Homo sapiens: one gene and its partners. The protein of the gene in region 1 purifies or fractionates together with the protein of each later gene. This does not show direct contact. Each region holds a gene or a part of one and is shown in the gene's direction. Other genes may lie near its edges. The genes, in order: CHFR, RANBP2, DNMT1, KIF22 and CDH5.

Region 1 (4,563 bases):
CATGGAAAAATACCTAGGTAGAAAAAGGCCACCTAGGCTGGGCATGGGCTCACGCCTGTAATCCCAGCACTTTGGGAGGCCAAGGCAGGCGGATGACCTGAGGTCAGGAGTTTGAGACCAGCCTGACCAACGCGGTGAGACCCCATCTTTACTAAAAATGAAAAAATTGGCCAGTTGTGGGCATCTGTAATCCCAGCTACTGGGGAGGCTGAGGCAGGAGAATCGCTTGAACCCAGGAGGCGGAGGTTGCAGTGAGCCGAGATTGCTCCACTATACTCCAGCCTAGGCCACAGAGCAAGACTCTGTCTCAAAAAAAAAAAAAAGCCACCTGAATATGTGCAGTTGGGGGCAAGCATGTTGCATGTTCAGAGCTAGAATGAAGCCCATCGAAGCCGTGTTAGGGTGGTGGAGCAGGTGAGATTTCTTTCTTTTGTGTCTCTCACTGTTTTCCTGGGATGAGCATGTGGTGTTCAGTTTAAGAAACGATGTGGGTCTGAGGCCGGGTGCAGTGCATCACGCCTGTAAATGTTCAGTTTAAGAAACGATACGGGTCTGAGGCCGGGTGCAGTGCATCACGCCTGTAAATGTTCAGTTTAAGAAACGATACGGGTCTGAGGCCGGGTGCAGTGCATCACGCCTGTAAATGTTCAGTTTAAGAAACGATGTGGGTCTGAGGCCGGGCGCAGTGCATCATGCCTGTAATCCTAGCGCTTTGAGAGGCTGAGGTGGGAGGATCCCTTGAAGCCAGGAGTTTGAAACCATCCTGGGCAACATGGTGAGACCCTGTCTCTACAAAAATAAAAAATAAATTAGCCGGGCCTGGTGGTGTGCACCTGTAGTCCTAGCTACTCAGGAGGCTGAGGTGGGTGGATCCCTTGAACCCAGGAGGCGGAGGTTGCAGTGAGCTGTGATTGTTCCCCTGTACTCCAGCCTGGGCCACAGAGCGAGACTCCATCTCTAAAAAATAACAAACCAGAAAATGTGAGCCTCGCCTTTTTTCAGGGATACAACTCCTCGCCATCACAGTCCATCACAACCTGGGTGGCGTTAGCTGGATGTGGCCCCGCCCCGATTTCCATGAGACCCCTCCTGAACAATGTTTCCAGAAAGAGTTGAGCTCCTGAGCCTGGTGCTGACGAATTGTGTTGGAGACAGCCCTCAGCGCTGAGTGCGTGTAACGAGTGTCCTCTCTCCACAGGTGCGGTCTGCCTGCAGCCTTTCTGCCACCTGTACTGGGGCTGCACCCGGACCGGCTGCTACGGCTGCCTGGCCCCGTTTTGTGGTAATACTGGCTCTTCAGGCCCCAGTTGCTTTGACCTTTGCATGTTCTCTTGGTGAACTTGAGGGCAGGGGATGGTGGGGTCCATAGCCTGATGTTTATAGGGATGAGGCCACTGTTGGTCATCAAATGATACCTATTCCTGGCTGGACTGCAGAGGTGTGTCAAATTCGTGTTAGCTCAAAATCAAGCCTTAACAGAATTATTAGGGGAGATACTCCCAGGACAGAATCCTTGCAGCGGGGTTCTGCTGTTACGATACCAAGACCAGGTGCTGGGGAGACTCGGAGAGCTGATCTTTTTAAGGAGGGAGTGGAATGGAAATCATTTCTGCTTGTCCTCTGTTTAAAATTGAGTTTTATCATTGAACTTCTTATTCTTTCTAGAATCTGTAATGAAAAGAAATATGTTTATCCTCAGTGTCGGGCAGACAGTGCTTTCCTGCGACATCATTATAAACAGGTAACATTGCCCCTTCATCTCGGCAGAGCTCAACCTGGGTGACAAGTGTCTGGACGGCGTGCTGAACAACAACAGCTACGAGTCAGACATCCTGAAGGTACCGACTCGCTGCGGGCTGGGGAGCCGGGAGCCACATTTTCTCCCTAGTGCAGCCAGCTGGTTCTCTGCATTCTATTGGTGTTTATCTGTTTTACCTGACCCGCTGCGGGTTGGGGAGCCGGGAGCCATGTTTCCTCACTGGTGCAGCCAGCTGGTTCTCTGCATGCCATTGGTGTTTGTCTGTTTTTTCCGTATTCCAAAAATAGGTATTTCGTTTTTGTGCCTCCTGCCACCAATTCGTAGGAGCCGCTTCCCGCAGCTCTTGTTCCCGGCAGCTCTTGTTCCCACAGCTCTCGGTGAGGGCTTCTTGAAGGTGCCGCCCTTTAGCAAGACCAGGGCCTTTTCTCTGGTCCCTGTCTCTTCTGGCCATTTGCCTTCCCACGTCTAGGAAGCTACCTCGGTTTCTAGGATTTACATATGTTTAACATGCGCATTCGCCCTCCTGCCGAGCACTTTGCTGACAGCACACACAATGGTGGGGCCTTGAGGCTTGCCACAGACACACCTGGCAGGCGCCCGCTCAGCCCCACACTCTGCTTTGATGCCCACAGAAGGAGCTCAACAGCTCGTGTGTGTTTGAAGGGCACAGAGAACAGATGCCAAGTCCTCAGCTTTTCTTGTGCAACAGCCTGGGCTCGTTGCTGGGCTGTGTGCACTGTGGCCTGGCTTTCATGTCTCATTCACACCTGGGCTGTGTAGGTCTTGGCAGAACTTTTGAGAGACTCTGGTAACTGTTACACTGGAACCTTTTGGGACTTCCAGGAGGCTCTTGGACAAGACTTCTCGTGCTGCAGGCCGTGAACGTGCAGCCCTCTGCAAATGCCACTTATAAGGGTCTGAGCTTTGGCTTTGCACACTTTCAGGGGCCTTTTATGAAATGTTTTCTCTCGTTATTTCAGTGTTTCTTCCTCTAAACGAGTATTTCTTATTCCTCTCTTTTTTTGCGTCACAGAATTACCTGGCAACCAGAGGTTTGACATGGAAAAACATGTTGACCGAGAGCCTCGTGGCTCTCCAGCGGGGAGTGTTTCTGCTGTCTGGTGAGTTCTTCTGTTGCCTCCTGCTCTAAGGCGCATGTGAGTGTCCAGGGCTGTGCCTGCGTGTCTGCTCTCCCAGTGACAACTCCGACCTTCACCCACCCTGGAAGAGAGGAAAAAGATCCTGATGCTTTCAGGTTGTTTTTGTTTGTTTGTTTGTTTTTTGAGATGGAGTCTCGCTCTTGTTGCCCAGACTGGAGTGCAGTGGCATGATCTCAGCTCAAGGCCCCCTCGGCCTCCTGGGTTCAAGCGATTCTCCTGCATCAACCTCCTGAGTAGCTGGGATTACAGGCATGTGCCACCACACCCAGCTAATTTTGTATTTTTAGTAAAGATGGGGTTTCCCCATGTTGGCCAGCCTGGTCTTGAACTTCTGACTTCAGGTGATCTGCCCACCTCAGCTTCCCAAAGTGCTGGAATTACAGGCGTGAGCCACTATGCCCGGCCTTCAGGTTGTTTTTTGAAAGTTGAGCGTGGGCCGGGTGTGGTGGCTCACGCCTGTAATCCCAGCACTTTGGGAGGCTGAGGCGGGCGGATCATGAGGTCAAGAGATTGAGACCATCCTGGCTAACACGGTAAAACCCTGTCTCTACTAAAAAAAGAAAAATACAAAAAATTAGCCGGGCGTGGTGGCGGGCGCCTGTAGTCCCAGCTACTCGGGAGGCTGAGGAAGGAGAATGGCGTGAACCCGGGAGGCGGAGCTTGCAGTGAGCCAAAATCACGCCACTGCACTCCAGCCTGGGGGACAGAGCGAGACTCCGTCTCAAAAAAAAAAAAAAAAAGACAGTTAAGCATGAACCTGTATGACATATTCCAGCAGCTTCTATCCTTGTAGGGGAGGGTGGGTGTGGCCGACTGCCACTACTGCTGCTTGAGACCCTCACTACAGCAGTTACTGCTGTTACTGCTTGAGACCATCATTACAGGACTGAACAAAGGGACAAACGTAGAAATGAAAACAAAAAGACAAAAGAAACTTTTAAGGAAAGGCAACATGGGGAAGAAGAGGAGAGCTCCCTGCTTCTAGTGAGTAAAGGCTGCCCCTGAGCTTCTACAGCCCTTCATATTTATTGGGTAACAAGAGCAAGGAGGAGGTAACAACTGGGCAGCTGCTAAATTGATCACAGGTTCATACTGTTACTGACAGGCTTCAATTATGCCTAATCATAAGAAACATTTGTGTGGCCTCCAACAGGTGGGGCCAGCTTGGAGGGTCTCTACCACTTGTCTATCCAGAGGTCCTGGGGTCAGTTGTCCTGGGACCCTCGGGGACTTGGTGAATCTCTTGCTTGATGTGTCAGTCACTTGGTGAGGGTCACTCCTCTCCAGGGGGGCACACGATGCTTTGTGGAGTATGATAATTTATCACTAAGGGAGGCTGTAGAAATATATATATGAGACAGGTTCTTGCTCTGTCGCCCAGGCTGGAGTGCAGGGGCATGATCACAGCTCACTGCAGCCTCGACCTCCTGGGCTCAAGAGATCATCTCACCTCAGCCTCCCAAGTAGCTGGGACCACAAGCGTGTGCTACCATGCCTGGCTAATCTTAGTTTTTTTATTTTTATTTATTTATTTATTTTTTTTTTTGAGATGGAATCTTGCTGTGTCACCCAGGCTGGAGTGCAATGGCACAATCTCAGCTCCCTGCAAGCTCCGCCTCCCAGGTTCAACAATTGTCCTGCCTC
Region 2 (4,563 bases), on another chromosome or scaffold:
AAAGAAGTACTGCTTGCATCAGATATTGTCCTGTTTACATAACATGGGCTGTGCTCCTTCCTAGCTGTGTATCTTTAAACAAGGCATTTACCTGCTTGAGCTTCAGTTCCCTTGTAAAGTGAGCAGGTTAGAGGCAAAAGATCATATAGAAGAATAATTTGTAAAGTTGTTTAATTATCTTAAGATTGTCTACTTTAATAACATAGTTGGAAGCAAAGAAGGTAATGGAATTATTTTTCTATTATGTTTTGGCATTGTACCTTGAATCTATTTCTTCATTTTGAAAAGGGGGAACTGGCTGGGCTCAATGGCTGACGCCTGTAATCCCAGCACTTTGGGAGGTGGAGGAAGTCAGATCACAAGGTCAAGAGATCGAGACCATCTTGGCCAACATGGTGAAACCCCATCTCTACTAAAAATACAAAAATTAGCTGGGCATGGTGGCGTGCGCCTGTAGTCCCAGCTTGTACCCGGGAGGCAGAGGTTGCAGTGAGCTGAGATCGAGCCACTGCACTGCAGCCTGGCGACAGAGCAAGACTCCATCTCAAAAAAAAAAAGGAAGGGGGGAACAAGCCTTGTTCCTTTACGTGCTGTCCTGACTGCTGTGTATTATTTTTGTTAAGATTGCTGTAGTTCTTTTTTTTTTTGAGACGGAGGCTTGCTCTGTCGCCAGTGCTGGGATTGCAGGTGTTAGCCTGGCATTGAGCAACGTTTTGTAATTTAAGCATACAAGTCTCTCACCTCCTTGTTTACATTTATTCCCAGGCATTTTTTTCTTTTAGATGCGATTGTAAATGGAATTGCTTTCTTAATTTCCTTTTCTGATTGTTCGTTGCTGGTACAGTAGTCCCTTCTTATCCACAGTATTGCCTTACGTGGTTTTACTTAGCTGTGTCACCCGTGGTCCAAAAATATTGAATGGAAGATTATATAAATAAACATTTCATGAGTTTTAAATTGCAAACGGTTCTGAATAACATGGTAAAAATCTCACGGCCTCCTGCTCCGTCCTACCTAGGACACAAGTCATCCCTTTGTCCGACATATTCATGCTGTATGTGCTCGCCACCCGCTAGTTACATACTAGTCATCTCAGTTATCAGATCAGTTGTTGGAGTATTGCAGTGCTTGTGTTCAAGTAACCTTTATTTTATTTAAAATGGCACCAAAGAGCAAGAGTAGCGATGCTGGCAGTTCACATATGCAGAGAGAAGCCATATAGTGCTTCCTTTAAGTGAAGAGGTGAGTTTTTTTGTTTTTTTTTTTTTTTGGCTTAAACAACAGAAATTTATTTTCTCATGGTTCTGGAGGCTAGAAGCGGCAGATCAGGGTGCTGCTGCTTTGGTTCCTGATGAGGGCTTTCTTCCTGGCTTATAGGTTGGCTGGCATCTTGTCCTCACATGGCAGAGGGAGAGTACTGTAGTCTCACCTTGCTTTTTATTATTATTATTTTTTTAATTTATTTTTTTATTGATAATTCTTGGGTGTTTCTCACAGAGGGGGATTTGGCAGGGTCATGGGACAATAGTGGAGGGAAGGTCAGCAGATAAACAAGTGAACAAAGGTCTCTGGTTTTCCTAGGCAGAGGACCCTGCAGCCTTCCGCAGTGTTTGTGTCCCTGATTACTTGAGATTAGGGAGTGGTGATGACTCTTAACGAGCATGCTGCCTTCAAGCATCTGTTTAACAAAGCACATCTTGCACCGCCCTTAATCCATTTAACCCTGGGTGGACACAGCACATGTTTCAGAGAGCACAGGGTTGGGGGTAAGGTCACAGATCAACAAGATCCCAAGGCAGAAGAATTTTTCTTAGTGCAGAACAAAATGAAAAGTCTCCCATGTCTACTTCTTTCTACACAGACACGGCAACCATCCGATTTCTCAATCTTTTCCCCACCTTTCCCGCCTTTCTATTCCACAAAACCGCCATTGTCATCATGGCCCGTTCTCAATGAGCTGTTGAGTACACCTCCCAGACGGGGTGGTGGCCGGGCAGAGGGGCTCCTCACTTCCCAGTAGGGGCGGCCGGGCAGAGGCGCCCCTCAGAAGAGGTGAGTTTTTGACTTAGGAAAGAAAAAAGATCATATACTGGAGTTGCTAAGATCTATGGTAAGAACAAATCTTTTGTCCATGAAATTGTGAAGAAGGAAAAAGAAATTTGTGCTAGTTTTGTTGTGACACCCCAAACTGCAAAAGTTACAGCCATAGTGTGTGATAAGTGCTTAGTTGAGATGGACAAGACATTAAATTTGTGGGTGGAGGACACAAACAGGAAACATGTTTCGATTGACGGCAACCTGGTTTGATACTATTCATCGTTTTGGACATTCACTGGGGTCTTGGAATTTCAAAAATAAGATGTTTGAGTAGCTGTATACTCTTTATCACATGGATGGAACATACTCTGGTTGTATCAGCATTTTTTTTTTTTTTTTTTTTGAGATGGAATCATTCTGTTGCCCACGCTGGAGTGCAGTGGTGCGATCTTGGCCCACTGCAGCCTCTGCCTCCCGGATTCAAGCGATTCTTTGCCTCAGCCTCCCAAGCAGTGGGGATTACAGGGGTGTGCCACCATGCCCAGCTAATTTTTGTATTTTTAGTAGAAAGGAGGTTTCTGCATGTTGGCCAGGCTGGTCTCGAACTCTTGGCTTCAGGTGATCCGCCCGCCTCGGTCTCCGAAAGTGCTGGGATTACAGGTGTGAGCCACCGCACCCAGCCTGGTGTGCATCAGCATTTTGGACTTTGGAGTTTATGTAACCAAGGAGCCAGGCTGTGGACCTCGTTTATTACTTGAAGAATTCAATATTTATTTCTGCCTTTTTGACTCCTTGACTGTAAAATACTGATCTGATCTGTAGAGAGAACAGTACATGGACCAGGGAATCCTCAGTGCCTTAATAGATCCTAAGTACTTACTTATTCTTTCCCATAGAGGCTTACACATGGTAGGAAAAGAGATTTCTGGAATACCTTTCCTCCCCAAAGAAAGCTGGTTTCTTTTGTTTGTTAAGTGAGAGAGTGGTACCACAGGGTTTCCAAGATTTCCAAGGCTGATGAAAATTCTTCTGTTGTCTGCTTGTCTTACTTTCTTGAATTTATTTTTTGTATGTTATGTATTTATTATTTAGAGAGAGGATCTCCCTGTGTCACCCACGCTGGAGTGCAGTGTCACAGTCATAACTCACGGCAGTGTCAACCTCCTGGGCTCAAGTGATTCTCCTTCCTTGGCCTCCTGAGTAGCTAGGAACACAGGCATGCTCCACTATGCCTGGCTATTTTTTTCTCCCTGGAGACAGGATCTTGTTGTGTTGCACAGGCTGGTTTCAAACTCTTGGCCTCAAAGCTAGCCTCCCACCTTGGTCTCTGAAAGTGCTAGAATTAAAGGTGTGACCAACTGCACCCAGCTTATTTATGATGATGATGATGATGATGATGATGATGATGATGATGATGATGTTTGGGAGATGGAGTCTCGCTCTGTCGCCCAGGCTGGAGTGCAATGGCACGATCTCAGCTCACTGCAACCTCTGGCTCACTGCAACCTCCACCTCCTGGGTTCAACTGATTCTCGTGCCTTAGCCTCCCGAGTAGCTGGGGTTACAGGCACCCACCATCATGCCTGGCTAATTTTTGTATTTTTGTCAAGACGGGGTTTCACCATGTTAGCCAGGCTGGTCTCAAACTCCTGACCTCAGGTGATCCGCCCACTTCGGCCTCCCAAAGTGCTGGGATTACAGGCATGAGCCGCTGCACCCAGCTCTATTTTTTGTTTTGTGATAGGAAATTATAAAACATGGAATTATGCATTTGTCAGCCTTTAAAAAAACTTTTAAGTGAATGAAAGTGGCGTATTTGAACATCAACTTAGGACAGATTTTTACTACTTTTGAAAAAATGTTGGAAAATATTTCTGTATGAAAAGTAAAACAACTTTTAATTTTTTTTAGAAGTCAATGAAAGGATTCTATTTTGCAAAGCTGTATTATGAAGCTAAAGAATATGATCTTGCTAAAAAGTAAGTACAAACTGTAACATGTATTTTTTTTTTAAAATCAATGCCTTTTCTCATTTTCTTCTTTGAAATAGGTAAAAATATGTTCTTAGTAGTTCTTCCTAAGTGTATTCTGGAATAAGGGATTTATCACTCAGACTGATGCTAAGGACCAGCCTAGATTCCATTGAGATTGAAACCGTAATTAGTGTTTTCTGCATGCTGCTGCTTTATACCAAGGGCAAGAAATTGTTTGGCTTCAAATACTTTTTCTAAAAATTGTCTTCTGTTGGAGTAAAAGAGGACCATGCCTATATCTTAATTTGTTTTTGGTTAGATATCTGATACCTTAATCAGATGGAAAATAGCAATGAATAAAAAATTAAACCGTAATTGTAAGGCAGGAGAATAGCTTGTATAAAAGATGTTTAATTGACACAATATGTGATGCTCTAAGGCTCTATCCTAGGGATAAGAAGCTTGGTGATTCTGATTTCCTGACTTGGAGTGGATTAAAGCAGGAAATTAAGAGGGAGTCAGGCTTTTTTTTTTTTTTTTTAGGCAGTATCTG
Region 3 (4,171 bases), on another chromosome or scaffold:
AGTGAGCCAAGATCATGCCATTGCACTCCAGCCTGGGCAACAGAGCGAGACATATAATACTAATAATAAAAACAGTGCCCAGAGAACGAGGATTGTTGGCTGCTCCACCCCAGGGGGCCCCTTGCACAGGAGGTGCCATCTCTGCCTCCCAAAGCTCTAAGAGCCACTGTCCCAAGCCTATACCCCATCCCACAACTGCAGCCTCATCACTGTCCTGTCTTCCAGCCGGCAAAGCCTGCGACCCCGCAGCCAGGCAGTTCAACACCCTCATCCCCTGGTGCCTGCCCCACACCGGGAACCGGCACAACCACTGGGCTGGCCTCTATGGAAGGCTCGAGTGGGACGGCTTCTTCAGCACAACCGTCACCAACCCCGAGCCCATGGGCAAGCAGGTAGGTGGGGAGGGGGCATCCGAGGGCCTGGGTCAGGCCCTGTACTTGGCGGCCTAACTAGGTGGAAGTGTGGGTTTAGCCAAGTGGGGGACAGCACCCCAGGACCCCAGGCACCTGGCCTCTGCCTCCTGCCCCTCCACGTCCACGGGACAAGCTCATAGGCCAAGGCCATGGCCGTATGCTGTCACAGTGCCATTTCCCTCCCTGTCCCCGACGGTGACCCGGCCTGGGTGCTACTGCCCTCGCCCACCGCGCCTCTTTCCCCCAGGGCCGCGTGCTCCACCCAGAGCAGCACCGTGTGGTGAGCGTGCGGGAGTGTGCCCGCTCCCAGGGCTTCCCTGACACCTACCGGCTCTTCGGCAACATCCTGGACAAGCACCGGCAGGTCAGTGGGGCGGCGCCCGCTGGGTCTGGACAGGAAGGAGGCTTCTGTGCCTGTCACCAGGTGGGGCTGGGGCCAGCGCAGTCACTTCCGGGAGGACGCCTGCTGGCTGCCGGGTAGCCCCATCACTCTCAGTGGGAAGACGGCCCACAGGAGGGACAGTGCTGAGACATCCGAGTCAGGCTGCGTCCCTATGCTGGTTCCTTACTGTTTGTTTTTGAGGCAGAGATTGAGCCAGAAGGACAGTCCGTCGCGCTAAAGGAGCAGGCTAAAACCCATGGTGGCGACAGCTCACTCGCTGTAGGTTCAAATGAACTAGCACCTTAATTCCTACCTGCTTCTCAGGTGTCGGGTTGGCTTAACAAGTTAGTCTATGAGTTAGTCTCAGTTAAGTGTATTTTCATCATAGGGCACGCGCATTGCTTAAAAACCAGTGTCCACGGTTCTTGTGAAAACCACATTTCACCCCTCCCCCCGAATCTGGTTCTCGGGAAGCAGCCACTCTCTCTTTTTTTTTTTTTTTTTTGAGATGGAGCTTTGTTCTTTCGCCCAGGCTGGAGTGAAGTGGCGTGATCTCAGCTCACCGCAACTTCCACCCCCCTGGTTTTAAGTGATTCTCCTGCCTCAGCCTCTTGAGTAGCTGGGATTACAGTCATGTGCTACCACACCCGGCTAATTTTTGTATTTTTAGTAGAGATGGGGTTTCACCATGTTGGCCAGGCTGGTCCCGAACTCTTGACCTCAGGTGATCCGCCTGCCTCGGCCTCCCAAAGTGCTGGGATTACAGGCATGAGCCACTGCGCCGGCCAGGGAAGCAGCCACTCTTAACTGGGAGCGAAACGTGTCTAGGTGGCCCATTTGTCTTTTTTTTTTTTTTTTCTGAGACAGGGTCTCACTCTGTCCCCTAGGCTGGAGTGCAGTGACATGATCTCTGCCCACTGCAACCTCCACCTCCAGGGTTCAAGTGATTCTCCTGCCTCAGCCTCCTGAGGTGCTGGGATTACAGGCATGTGCCACCATGCCCAGCTAATTAGTTTTTGTACTTTTAGTAGAGACGGGGTTTCACCATGTTGGCGAGGCTGCTCTCGAACTCCTGGCCTCAACTAATCCACCTGCCTTGGCCTCCCAAAGTGCTGGGATTACAGGCGTGAGCCACTGCTCCCAGCCCCACGTGTCTTTGTCTCAAGTCTTTCTGAAGCTCTTCAAAGGCCCAGTGACTTGTGGCTGTGGGGCGGGATGATGGGCCAGTTGGAGGGTCCAAGGATCTTGTGCTGGAAGGGTTTTGGGCCCATGTGAGCAGGACCAGAACCCTTCCCCAAGGGGTGCAATGCCCAGGTTGTCCTCCATCTGAGCAGGGGCTGGCAGTACACCTGCCCCCGGGCCTTGGGCCTGGGTGTCCACATCAGGCATTGCCCTTCTCCCCTCCTGCAGGTGGGCAATGCCGTGCCACCGCCCCTGGCCAAAGCCATTGGCTTGGAGATCAAGCTTTGTATGTTGGCCAAAGCCCGAGAGAGTGCCTCAGGTATGGTGGGGTGGGCCAGGCTTCCTCTGGGGCCTGACTGCCCTCTGGGGGTACATGTGGGGGCAGTTGCTGGCCACCGTTTTGGGCTCTGGGACTCAGGCGGGTCACCTACCCACGTTCGTGGCCCCATCTTTCTCAAGGGGCTGCTGTGAGGATTGAGTGAGTTGCACGTGTCAAGTGCTTAGAGCAGGCGTGCTGCACACAGCAGGCCTTTGGTCAGGTTGGCTGCTGGGCTGGCCCTGGGGCCGTTTCCCTCACTCCTGCTCGGTGAATTTGGCTCAGCAGGCACCTGCCTCAGCTGCTCACTTGAGCCTCTGGGTCTAGAACCCTCTGGGGACCGTTTGAGGAGTGTTCAGTCTCCGTGAACGTTCCCTTAGCACTCTGCCACTTATTGGGTCAGCTGTTAACATCAGTACGTTAATGTTTCCTGATGGTCCATGTCTGTTACTCGCCTGTCAAGTGGCGTGACACCGGGCGTGTTCCCCAGAGTGACTTTTCCTTTTATTTCCCTTCAGCTAAAATAAAGGAGGAGGAAGCTGCTAAGGACTAGTTCTGCCCTCCCGTCACCCCTGTTTCTGGCACCAGGAATCCCCAACATGCACTGATGTTGTGTTTTTAACATGTCAATCTGTCCGTTCACATGTGTGGTACATGGTGTTTGTGGCCTTGGCTGACATGAAGCTGTTGTGTGAGGTTCGCTTATCAACTAATGATTTAGTGATCAAATTGTGCAGTACTTTGTGCATTCTGGATTTTAAAAGTTTTTTATTATGCATTATATCAAATCTACCACTGTATGAGTGGAAATTAAGACTTTATGTAGTTTTTATATGTTGTAATATTTCTTCAAATAAATCTCTCCTATAAACCACCCTGGGTGGGTATTCGTGATTTGCACGGGACTTCTGGCTGAGGTCAGACAGGAACAAGCTCTTCCATGCTGAAGGCGACCCACGTGGAGTTTGAAGCTAGCACGTTTGAAGCTAGACACTCCGTGTGTCTGTCTGTGTTTGTTCAGAACTGAGTCACGTGAGTTGATCCCCATGACATGCAAATGGAACTTGCTAGTGTAGCTTCCAGGAAAGCCTTTTAAAGGAAGTCTTGGCTGGCCTTCCCCGTGGCTGGTAGGCCTTCTTTGGTCTGAAGTGGGTTGTGATGCCTGGCAGTGGAGCAGCCATCCTGTGACCATGAGGCAGAGCTCTGTGCTGCAACTGGTGGAATAAGGAGAGAGAAGTCACCACTGAGCTGCCCTTGGAGCCCCGGCCACCCCATCCCCAAGCAAAACCTCTTTAGTTGGGTTTTTTTTCTTTCCAAAGAATTTTTTTTTTTTTTTGAGACAGTCTTGCTCTGTTGCTCAGGCTGTAGTGCAGTGGGGCAGTCTCCGTTCAATGCAGCCTCTGCCTCCTGGGTTCAAGAAATTCTGCCTCAGCCTCCCGAGTAGCTGGGATTGTAGGCGCCCATCACCACGCCCAGCTAATTTTTGTATTTTTAGTAGAGACGATGTTTCACCATGTTGGCCAGGCTGGTCTTGAAATCCTGACATGATCCGCCCACCTGGACCTCCCAAAGTGCTGGGTTACAGGTGTGATCCACTGCACCCAGCCTCCCATTAGCTTTTTTTTTTTTTTTTTTGAGACAGTTTCGTTCTTGTTGCCCAGGCTGGAGTGCGGTGGCACGATCTCTGCTCACTGCAACCTCCGCCTCCCAGGTTCAAGTGATTTTCCTGCCTCAGCCTCCCAAGTAGCTGGGATTACAGGCATGCGCCATCACACCCAACTAATTTTGTATTTTTAGTAGAGACGGGGTTTCTCCATGTTGGTCAGGGTGGTCTCAAACTCCCGACCTCAGGTTATCCGCCTGCCTCGGCCTCCCAAA
Region 4 (3,630 bases), on another chromosome or scaffold:
TATTTGCAGAGGCTTGTTCCACCTCTGGGTAGCCCCCTAATCACAGAAAGCCCTTAATTATGTTAGGCTCCACCTGTCTCCTGGTAACCTCCCACTGGTCCTAGCCCTGCCCTCTGGGGGCTCAGAGCCTTGCATACTCACCCTGGTAACCCACTCCCTTCAGGCTGCCCTGGAGTTGGGTCTGGATCACATCTCCCTGATCCTTTCCAACAGAGGCTTAAGACGAAGCAAAAAGAACTGGAGGCCAAGATGTTGGCCCAGAAGGCTGAGGAAAAGGAGAACCATTGTCCCACAATGCTCCGGCCCCTTTCACATCGCACAGTCACAGGGGCAAAGCCCCTGAAAAAGGCTGTGGTGATGCCCCTACAGCTAAGTAAGTTTGACTCCAGGGGCTGGGGGGCCAAGGCAGCTGAGATCCTATAAGGGAGGAAGTGTTAGGAGCAGCTGTCTCCATGTCATTCATATTCTCCCACCACATACCAGTCCCAGGGAGGGGTGAGGAGGCTCTGAGGCAGTGCTGGGGGTGCTCTGCCCTCGGGTGTTTAGGACAGTGGGATGGACAAACGAGTAGAGGATTGAAGATAATGCAAGACTGACTGAAATTCCTTTAAATGCGGGTATAAAAAAGGTCATGTGGAAACACAACAGGTTAACTCTGGATGGAGGGGAGCTGGGGAATCAGAAATGGAAGAATCGAAGGGCTACCAGGGAGGGTGAAAAGTACCCTTTGCCCTGACTCCAATTCTCGATTCCTACTTTCAGTTCAGGAGCAGGCAGCATCCCCAAATGCCGAGATCCACATCCTGAAGAATAAAGGCCGGAAGAGAAAGGTGAAAGTAGCTGGGGGCTTAGGCTACACCTGGAGCCCAGAAGTAAGGGGGAGTAGGCTCTAGGGGGAGGAGCGTTGGCCTTGGGGTTAAACGAACTGGATGATGGCCGCCAGCTACTAACAGACCTCAACTTGCTTACCCCTGGAATGTGGTGATGGATGGTTCCTTGCAGGGCATTTAGGGTGGAAGGCAGTGATGTGGATGTACCTCGCAGAGCGGATGTTCCACTGTGTAGCCTGGCTTCTACCCTCTACAAGCTTAAGAGGGAAAACTTAGGGAACTATGACCTAAGCAGTCAAGCAAGAAACCACACATATGCACATACCCAGAATCGAACACCACTAGAACTACCCAAAAACTGAGATGGTTGGGGGAGGTATCATTTATTCATATTACTTTCTCCCATGTACTTTTTGAAAGACAGCTTATTCTTTCCCTTTTAGAGATGAGGGACCAGATTTAAGAGCTTATTTTGTGCTTTACATTCATTAACTCACTTGATCTCCACAGCAACTCCATGAGAAGGGTGCTAATATTACCACTGGGTACTGAGTAGTACCTCTCTTTCACTAGTTGCATAATAAGAATTAACCCAGAGAGTGACCTGAGGGCGGGATTTTGGACACACTTGACAAGAGAGGAAGAGGCTGGAGCGCAGGAGGTAGCTGGTGCTGGGCTCCTAGTCTTGGCAGAGGAGCCCAAAGCACTTGGCTGCCCTGCGTGTCACTCATCTCCCTTTGCCTCCCAGCTGGAGTCCCTGGATGCCCTAGAGCCTGAGGAGAAGGCTGAGGACTGCTGGGAGCTACAGATCAGCCCGGAGCTACTGGCTCATGGGCGCCAAAAAATACTGGATCTGCTGAACGAAGGCTCAGCCCGAGATCTCCGCAGTCTTCAGCGCATTGGCCCGAAGAAGGCCCAGCTAATCGTGGGCTGGCGGGAGCTCCACGGCCCCTTCAGCCAGGTAGCAGCCCACTGGACTGGGGGAGGGCGGGGGCGGGGGAGACCGGGTACCCCCGAGACCCTGTCCCCTATCGATCCTGTCCCGCCAGGTGGAGGACCTGGAACGCGTGGAGGGCATAACGGGGAAACAGATGGAGTCCTTCCTGAAGGTGAAGTCACGGCCCTGCCCCTCCTCTGCCTGTCCTGCGCCCCGCGCCCCTCTCTAACGTCGCTGTCTCCCTCCCTCCTGTGTTGCAGGCAAACATCCTGGGTCTCGCCGCCGGCCAGCGCTGTGGCGCCTCCTGACCGTCGTCTCCTCACTCCGCCTTTTCAAATTTTTGTATAACCCCGTGTTGTGTAAATACAGTTTTTGCTCCGGTGCTTCCGCCTGATTTTTGGGGCTGCGGGGGCGGGACCGGGGTGTGACCGCCTCGGGGTGGGCCGCGAGCAAGGCAGGCGACTCCACTGGGCGCCATCTTCGGGGAACGACTCAGCGCAGGATTGTAAATACACCGCTGGGGTGGGGCGGGGAGGACGGTGGCCTGCAGGACGCAAAAAGCGGAAGCCGAAGCATGAGGCCTGCGACCGTTAGGCGGGCGCGCGCTCAGGGATTAGCCCCGCCCCGTCCGTGCCCCCGGCGCGCGCGCTCCCCCATTCTCCCGCTCGGCAACGACGGCGGCCTTGTGCGCGTGCGCGCGAAATAACGGCCGCTGGCGGAGGGAGGGGGAGTGGAATCGTTGGCGGGGGGAAGAGGAGAGAAGCCGCCCTGTCTCCCGCGCGCCCACCACCTGCGCCATCGTCAGCCAATCAGCAGCCGTCTCAGGGGTCTCGCGCTCGGGGCGACTCGGGCTGCTGGGTGGCTCCCCCGTCCCTCCTCCCGCCAGAGTCCCTCTCGCGCCTGCCCCTCCCGCTGGCCACGCGCGCGCTCGCGCTAGCGCTCGCGCCCGCTCCAGCCTCTTGTGTGTCCTCGCGCCCCCCGCCCGCCCTCCCCGCGCGTAGTGTGCTCCGCTTCCCCCACCCTCCACCTCCCCCCTCCTGCCCGCCCCGCGCGCCTCCTCCCGGGTTCCCCCTCCCCCACCGCCGCCGCCTCCTCCTCCCGCCCCAGGGTGAGCGCGAGCCACCTCCCTCCCTCCCTCCGCCATGGATCCCAGCAACTGGAGCAGCTTCATCTTCCAGGTAACAACTCCCTCCCCCCGCCCCCACCCCCCTGCCCACACCCCCTCCTGCCCGCCCTCCCTCCCGTCCCACCCCCCCTCCGCGCGCCCGGTGCGCGCGCAGCTGTCCCCCTCCCTCCCTCGCGCCCTCCCCCGCCCTCCCCGAGGCGCCGGCTGGGCGCGCGCGCGGCGGGGGCCGAGGCTGCTCCCTCGCTCCCCCCACCCCGCCCCGCCAGGCTCCAACCGCCGCCGCCGCCGCCGCCGCCGCCCGGGCCCCCGCCCCCGGCCCCGGCCCCGCGGGGCCTCCCGCCCCCACCCAGGGGGCGTCGCCGCCGCCGTCGCCGCGGCGCTCCGCGGCCCGCAAGGCGCCCTCTTTTCCTCCCTCCCGCCGGCCGGGGTGCGCGGGCGGCGGGGCGGCCCGCGGGCCATGCGTTCGGCGCGGCCCAGCCCGGCCGGCCGGGGGCGGCGCCCCGAGCCCGGGCCCCGCGCGGCCCGCGCCCCCGGCCCCCGCTGAGCCCCGGGGGCCCCGCTGCGGCCGAGGCCATGTTCCCGGTGTTTCCTTGCACGCTGCTGGCCCCCCCCTTCCCCGTGCTGGGCCTGGACTCCCGGGGGGTGGGCGGCCTCATGAACTCCTTCCCGCCACCTCAGGGTCACGCCCAGAACCCCCTGCAGGTCGGGGCTGAGCTCCAGTCCCGCTTCTTTGCCTC
Region 5 (5,263 bases), on another chromosome or scaffold:
ATCCCATTGGAGAAGGAAGCGCTGAGCTGTTGTTTGTTCATTCCACAATCGGCTGTTGAATGTGTTGGATCCCACTCAGAATTCCGCCCCAAGGACTGTTCTCCTTCCAGCAGGTCGCTCCTCAGTCTCCAGCATCATCTGTCTTCCCGTCTGCTGGATGCTCCCTGGGGACATGAGCGTGCTGCCATAGTTAAAAAAAAAAAAAAAAAAAAAAAAAAAAAACCCTCCCACTTCTCTGCTCCCATTCACTGTAAGACTTGGGGAAGAAGCTACAGTCACACGTGACTCCACATCCCCGTCCCCCTTTCTCCCCTTTCTCTAGCCCCTCCAATCTGTCTTGTCTACCTTTTCCTGTTTAACCTGTTCTGGTCACAGTCATTGATGACCTCATCTTCCAAATCCAAAGTTAAGTCTCAGCCCTCATGCTCCCCAGGCTGACCCACTGACTACTCCCCTGCCCTCCTCCTCTGCCCTCTCCTGGCATTCCTCCTTCATCATGGGACCCTCTTCTAATGGATCCCCAAATGTCAGAGGGTCCAAGTCCTCCCTCCCTCCAAGCTCATCCATGCCCATGGCCTCAGATGCCAGCCATAAGCTGTTGGGTTCCAAACCTCGACTCCAGGCTGGACTCACCCCTGTCTCCCCCACCAGCCTGACACCTCCACCTGGGTATCTAACGAGCATCTCAAACTCAACCTGCCTGAGACAGAGGAATCACTATCCCCTCCTCCTCCAAAAATATCCTTCCATCACACTCCCCATCTTGTGCTCTGATTTACTAAACGGCCCTGGGCCCTCTCTTTCTCAGGGTCTCTGCTTGCCCAGCTATATAATAAAACAAGTTTGGGACTTCCCAACCATTCACCCATGGAAAAACAGAAGCAACTCTTCAAAGGACAGATTCCCAGGATCTGCCCTGGGAGATTCCAAATCAGTTGATCTGGGGTGAGCCCAGTCCTCTGTAGTTTTTAGAAGCTCCTCCTATGTCTCTCCTGGTCAGCAGAATCTTGGCCCCTCCCTTCCCCCCAGCCTCTTGGTTCTTCTGGGCTCTGATCCAGCCTCAGCGTCACTGTCTTCCACGCCCCTCTTTGATTCTCGTTTATGTCAAAAGCCTTGTGAGGATGAGGCTGTGATTATCCCCATTTTACAGATGAGGAAACTGTGGCTCCAGGATGACACAACTGGCCAGAGGTCACATCAGAAGCAGAGCTGGGTCACTTGACTCCACCCAATATCCCTAAATGCAAACATCCCCTACAGACCGAGGCTGGCACCTTAGAGCTGGAGTCCATGCCCGCTCTGACCAGGAGAAGCCAACCTGGTCCTCCAGAGCCAAGAGCTTCTGTCCCTTTCCCATCTCCTGAAGCCTCCCTGTCACCTTTAAAGTCCATTCCCACAAAGACATCATGGGATCACCACAGAAAATCAAGCTCTGGGGCTAGGCTGACCCCAGCTAGATTTTTGGCTCTTTTATACCCCAGCTGGGTGGACAAGCACCTTAAACCCGCTGAGCCTCAGCTTCCCGGGCTATAAAATGGGGGTGATGACACCTGCCTGTAGCATTCCAAGGAGGGTTAAATGTGATGCTGCAGCCAAGGGTCCCCACAGCCAGGCTCTTTGCAGGTGCTGGGTTCAGAGTCCCAGAGCTGAGGCCGGGAGTAGGGGTTCAAGTGGGGTGCCCCAGGCAGGGTCCAGTGCCAGCCCTCTGTGGAGACAGCCATCCGGGGCCGAGGCAGCCGCCCACCGCAGGGCCTGCCTATCTGCAGCCAGCCCAGCCCTCACAAAGGAACAATAACAGGAAACCATCCCAGGGGGAAGTGGGCCAGGGCCAGCTGGAAAACCTGAAGGGGAGGCAGCCAGGCCTCCCTCGCCAGCGGGGTGTGGCTCCCCTCCAAAGACGGTCGGCTGACAGGCTCCACAGAGCTCCACTCACGCTCAGCCCTGGACGGACAGGCAGTCCAACGGAACAGAAACATCCCTCAGCCCACAGGCACGGTGAGTGGGGGCTCCCACACTCCCCTCCACCCCAAACCCGCCACCCTGCGCCCAAGATGGGAGGGTCCTCAGCTTCCCCATCTGTAGAATGGGCATCGTCCCACTCCCATGACAGAGAGGCTCCTCGAGGGCACGCTGGGCCTCCTCGTGGCTCAGAGCAGGGTCGGGGAAGGTGCACCCAGAGGTAGTGCCAAGGGCACAAATGGGCATCTCGGGGCTGAGGGGGGCAGGGCAAGGGCTTGGCTCTCCCAGAAGTGTATTCTCCAACTCAAAAAGGCCCACTGGCCTTCATCAGTGCCAGGCTCAGAGAGGGCAGTATTCTGCCCCAGTTGCCCAGCATGCCGGGGCAGAGGACTGGCACCCAGGCCTTGGCCTCCCCTCGGTGCCTTACCCTTACTGGAGAGGATTTACCAAGGCCTGACACCAGCCTCCTCAGCCCCCTACCCATACGCCACTAAAGCTCTATGCTGGGATCTGGGGAGGGGCCCTGAAAAGGAAGCTCCGAGCCTTGGCCCCTCTCGGTCAGCCAGTGCCCCCATTTCAGGATAGGCAAGCTGAGGCTTGGCTCTGGGCACTTGAGGTCTTGCCTTTCCCTCTGGGCCTTTCCCTGCCCAAACACCATCGGGGCCCACTATGTGTCAAGGGAGCTGTAGTCTGGACAGCGGTCCACCATTCCTCCCACCAGCACCCTTTCAAAGGCTAGAGCATAAGAGCCCCAAGGCCCCCACAGCCCAGGAAGTCCCCCAGAAGCAGGAGGTCTGGGCCAAGAGCCTGGCCTGGAGACAGCTGCCCTGGGTACAGATCCCAGCTCTCCCATTTGCTCTGGGGTGACCTTGGGAAAGTTACCCAGAGTTTCCAAACCACAGTGGGGAACAAGGGATGGTGTGGGGCTCATTATTTTACCATTAACAACTCCACAAGGTAGATACATTCTTTCTTTATATCTCAGTGAAAGCAACTGAGCTTTGGAAACATATGAGCTGGTGTGGGGATTTGAACCAGGATCTCGTACTCCAAAGCCCCAGCTCTCCCCAGGTCTCAAGTGTCTCATCTGTGAAATGGGGAAACAGTGTTTCCTCAGTCAATTGAGTGAAGTGAGCTACATCCCTGGTGCTGGGAATGGCACATAACATGAGATCTTTAAGGAATAGTGGCTGGATTTACCAGCTAGCACAGAGCCGATCCTGGTTGTGAATGTGATAAAGATTTTGGCCCTTGAGGTATGGTCAAACCCCATCACGGAGGGGTCCTCAGGTGCCCAGCAGGTACGAGGAAGGGGGTGCAAGTGAGAGGACATCGCGAGCACCTCTGGGCCTCTGCTCCATGTCAGGCTCCCTCCCCAGCGTGGACGTTTCTCATGTGTGATGGGCAGATAGGATTCTGACAAGAGAGGAAGGGCATTCCCAGGGAGGCAGCTTTGAGGAGTCGAGGGTGTACCTGGAAGGCTCTTTTGCCACAGGCCACTGGAGCCAGGGCCAGAAGCCCTGGTCCATCCTCAGGTGGTGGGAAGCCTGGGACTCTCCTCTGCCTGCCCTAGAGAGCAGCAGGTATCCACCAAGGGGCCCAAGAGCTGCTGAGCCCCTGAGCAGCCCTACCAATTTCAGCTTATGGTGGTGAGGGGTAGGGGAGGTGTATACTGGCCTGGAAGGGGTTAAGCTGCCCGCCTGCAGCCTCAGCCTGAGCTATTGTGTTGCCAAACAAGGGCCGGACATGAGGGCAGGAAGCCAGCAGGGGCCACACATTTTCTGCAAAGTTGGATGATTCACTGCTGACTTGGGGACACCCAGGGGACAGAGGGGACACCATCCCAGGAAGAATCTTAGGCTCATTTTGCCCACATGGACCCATGACTGTTCCCTGTATCCTCTCTCTGCACCCCCTCAGTCACACTGAAGCAACTATGAGAATTCCCATTTGACAGATGGGACCATCGAGGCTGAGGGAAGCTGTGCAGCCAGTCCAAGGTCACACAACCAACACAAGGTAGAAGCAGGGTGAGTGCGGTTCCTTCTGACCCACAGTCCATGCCACACTCCACAGTGAAGCTCAGAGAGGGGGAAAGCAGAGCAGTCCAGGCCACAGAGGCAGGCACAGGGACAAGCCAGGAGCCCAGTGATACCAGGGGAAGGAATGTTCTAGGAGGCAGGGCCTCAGGAGCTTCACCTCTGGCTGAGGAGATACTAAAAAGTCTGTCCTGATCCAGGTTCAAGCTGGTGTTAAGTGGGTAAATCATGGAGGGCTTGCTGGAGGAAGAGTGGGAATCCCAGATGCTAGGAGGCCTTGGGCAGCCCCTCTGCAGCCTGCACCTCAGTCTTCCCATCTCTTGAGAGTAGGGGATGGTCCCTAAACTAATTCAGGGATTTCCAGGTTGTCTGCCTTGGACCATAGCAAAACAGTCAGATCCTGGCAGGTCCAGATACTAGAAGGAGGAGGAAGTGGGACCCAGGGGCAGGCCGGGCTGGTGGTGAATGAGATTTCCTTCTGCAGAGGAACAGAAAGAGTAGGAGGTGGGCCCAGAGTAGAGCCAGGAAATGAGGTCAAGCGTAAGTTGGCCAGTCAAAGCCACACCCACCAGGCTGGAGAGGGCGGGTAGATAGGAGTCAAGACACCTGCACCCTTACTGAGCACCTACTGTGTGCCAGGCTTTGCACCCATGATCTCATTTAATCCTCCTGCCCAGGGAGGCAGCTATTGTTGCCTCCATTACAGATAAGGAAGCTGAGGCTCAGCAAGCAAGAGATGAACCCAAGGTCACACAGCTCCCGAGCAGCTGGGCAGGTTCAAATAGGCAGGTGCAAGGGCCTCATTCTGTTCCCCGCACTGCCCTGACAGTCCCAGACAAAGTCAGGAAGCCCAGAGGAGTCTGGAAGCCTCCTTAGCATGGGTGTTCTCTCCTTGAAGTTTGGAGCTGTCCCTTTAGAAGGCAAGGGGATAGACTAGATGACCCGGAGCCCAGAGATTCCAGCACAAATTTGTTTCACATCACAAAATAGGTCTGGCCAGTTGGTACCCTCTACCTTCATTCAGTGGGAATGAACTTGAACTCAGCCCCTGAATCCTCAATACAGTCTATGAGGATCCTCAATACAGTCTTTGAGTGATTGATTCGTGATGTCTGCCATAGGTGTGGAAAGGGGCATGTGGCAAGCTGAGTTCTGTTTTGCCAGCCCTGTCTTAAGAGGTGCCCTGCTCAGGGGTGTTTGCATATTCACTGGAGACTTTTTTGTTTGTTTGTTTGTTTGTTTGTTTGTTTGTTTTTGAGACAGAG

The links.
Region 2: the proteins of CHFR (region 1) and RANBP2 purify together in Homo sapiens (affinity purification with mass spectrometry, with the first as the bait; one large-scale study listed by BioGRID). This does not show direct contact.
Region 3: the proteins of CHFR (region 1) and DNMT1 purify together in Homo sapiens (affinity purification with western blotting; one study listed by BioGRID). This does not show direct contact.
Region 4: the proteins of CHFR (region 1) and KIF22 purify together in Homo sapiens (affinity purification with western blotting; one study listed by BioGRID). This does not show direct contact.
Region 5: the proteins of CHFR (region 1) and CDH5 purify together in Homo sapiens (affinity purification with western blotting, with the first as the bait; one study listed by BioGRID). This does not show direct contact.

What each region holds. Positions count from the first base shown.
Region 1 is NC_000012.12:132,845,360-132,849,922, reverse strand, and holds part of CHFR (E3 ubiquitin-protein ligase CHFR), read left to right. Parts: intron 1-1,198; coding exon 1,199-1,282; intron 1,283-1,767; coding exon 1,768-1,838; intron 1,839-2,792; coding exon 2,793-2,880; intron 2,881-4,563. UniProt on the Homo sapiens protein: E3 ubiquitin-protein ligase that functions in the antephase checkpoint by actively delaying passage into mitosis in response to microtubule poisons.
Region 2 is NC_000002.12:108,725,184-108,729,746, forward strand, and holds part of RANBP2 (E3 SUMO-protein ligase RanBP2), read left to right. Parts: intron 1-3,948; coding exon 3,949-4,016; intron 4,017-4,563. UniProt on the Homo sapiens protein: E3 SUMO-protein ligase which facilitates SUMO1 and SUMO2 conjugation by UBE2I. Involved in transport factor (Ran-GTP, karyopherin)-mediated protein import via the F-G repeat-containing domain which acts as a docking site for substrates.
Region 3 is NC_000019.10:10,132,342-10,136,512, reverse strand, and holds the end of DNMT1 (DNA (cytosine-5)-methyltransferase 1), read left to right. Parts: intron 1-225; coding exon 226-392; intron 393-660; coding exon 661-777; intron 778-2,205; coding exon 2,206-2,296; intron 2,297-2,811; coding exon 2,812-2,846; 3' UTR 2,847-3,167; downstream 3,168-4,171. UniProt on the Homo sapiens protein: Methylates CpG residues. Preferentially methylates hemimethylated DNA. Associates with DNA replication sites in S phase maintaining the methylation pattern in the newly synthesized strand, that is essential for epigenetic inheritance.
Region 4 is NC_000016.10:29,803,236-29,806,865, forward strand, and holds the end of KIF22 (kinesin-like protein KIF22), read left to right. Parts: intron 1-163; coding exon of another isoform or gene 164-213; coding exon 214-373; intron 374-762; coding exon 763-830; exon of another isoform or gene 831-836; intron 837-1,578; coding exon 1,579-1,791; intron 1,792-1,879; coding exon 1,880-1,939; intron 1,940-2,027; coding exon 2,028-2,075; 3' UTR 2,076-2,149; downstream 2,150-3,630. Other genes in the region: MAZ (myc-associated zinc finger protein), read left to right, coding at 3,467-3,630. UniProt on the Homo sapiens protein: Kinesin family member that is involved in spindle formation and the movements of chromosomes during mitosis and meiosis. Binds to microtubules and to DNA. Plays a role in congression of laterally attached chromosomes in NDC80-depleted cells.
Region 5 is NC_000016.10:66,364,764-66,370,026, forward strand, and holds the start of CDH5 (cadherin-5 preproprotein), read left to right. Parts: upstream 1-1,927; 5' UTR 1,928-1,995; intron 1,996-3,879; exon of another isoform or gene 3,880-3,989; intron 3,990-5,263. UniProt on the Homo sapiens protein: Cadherins are calcium-dependent cell adhesion proteins. They preferentially interact with themselves in a homophilic manner in connecting cells; cadherins may thus contribute to the sorting of heterogeneous cell types.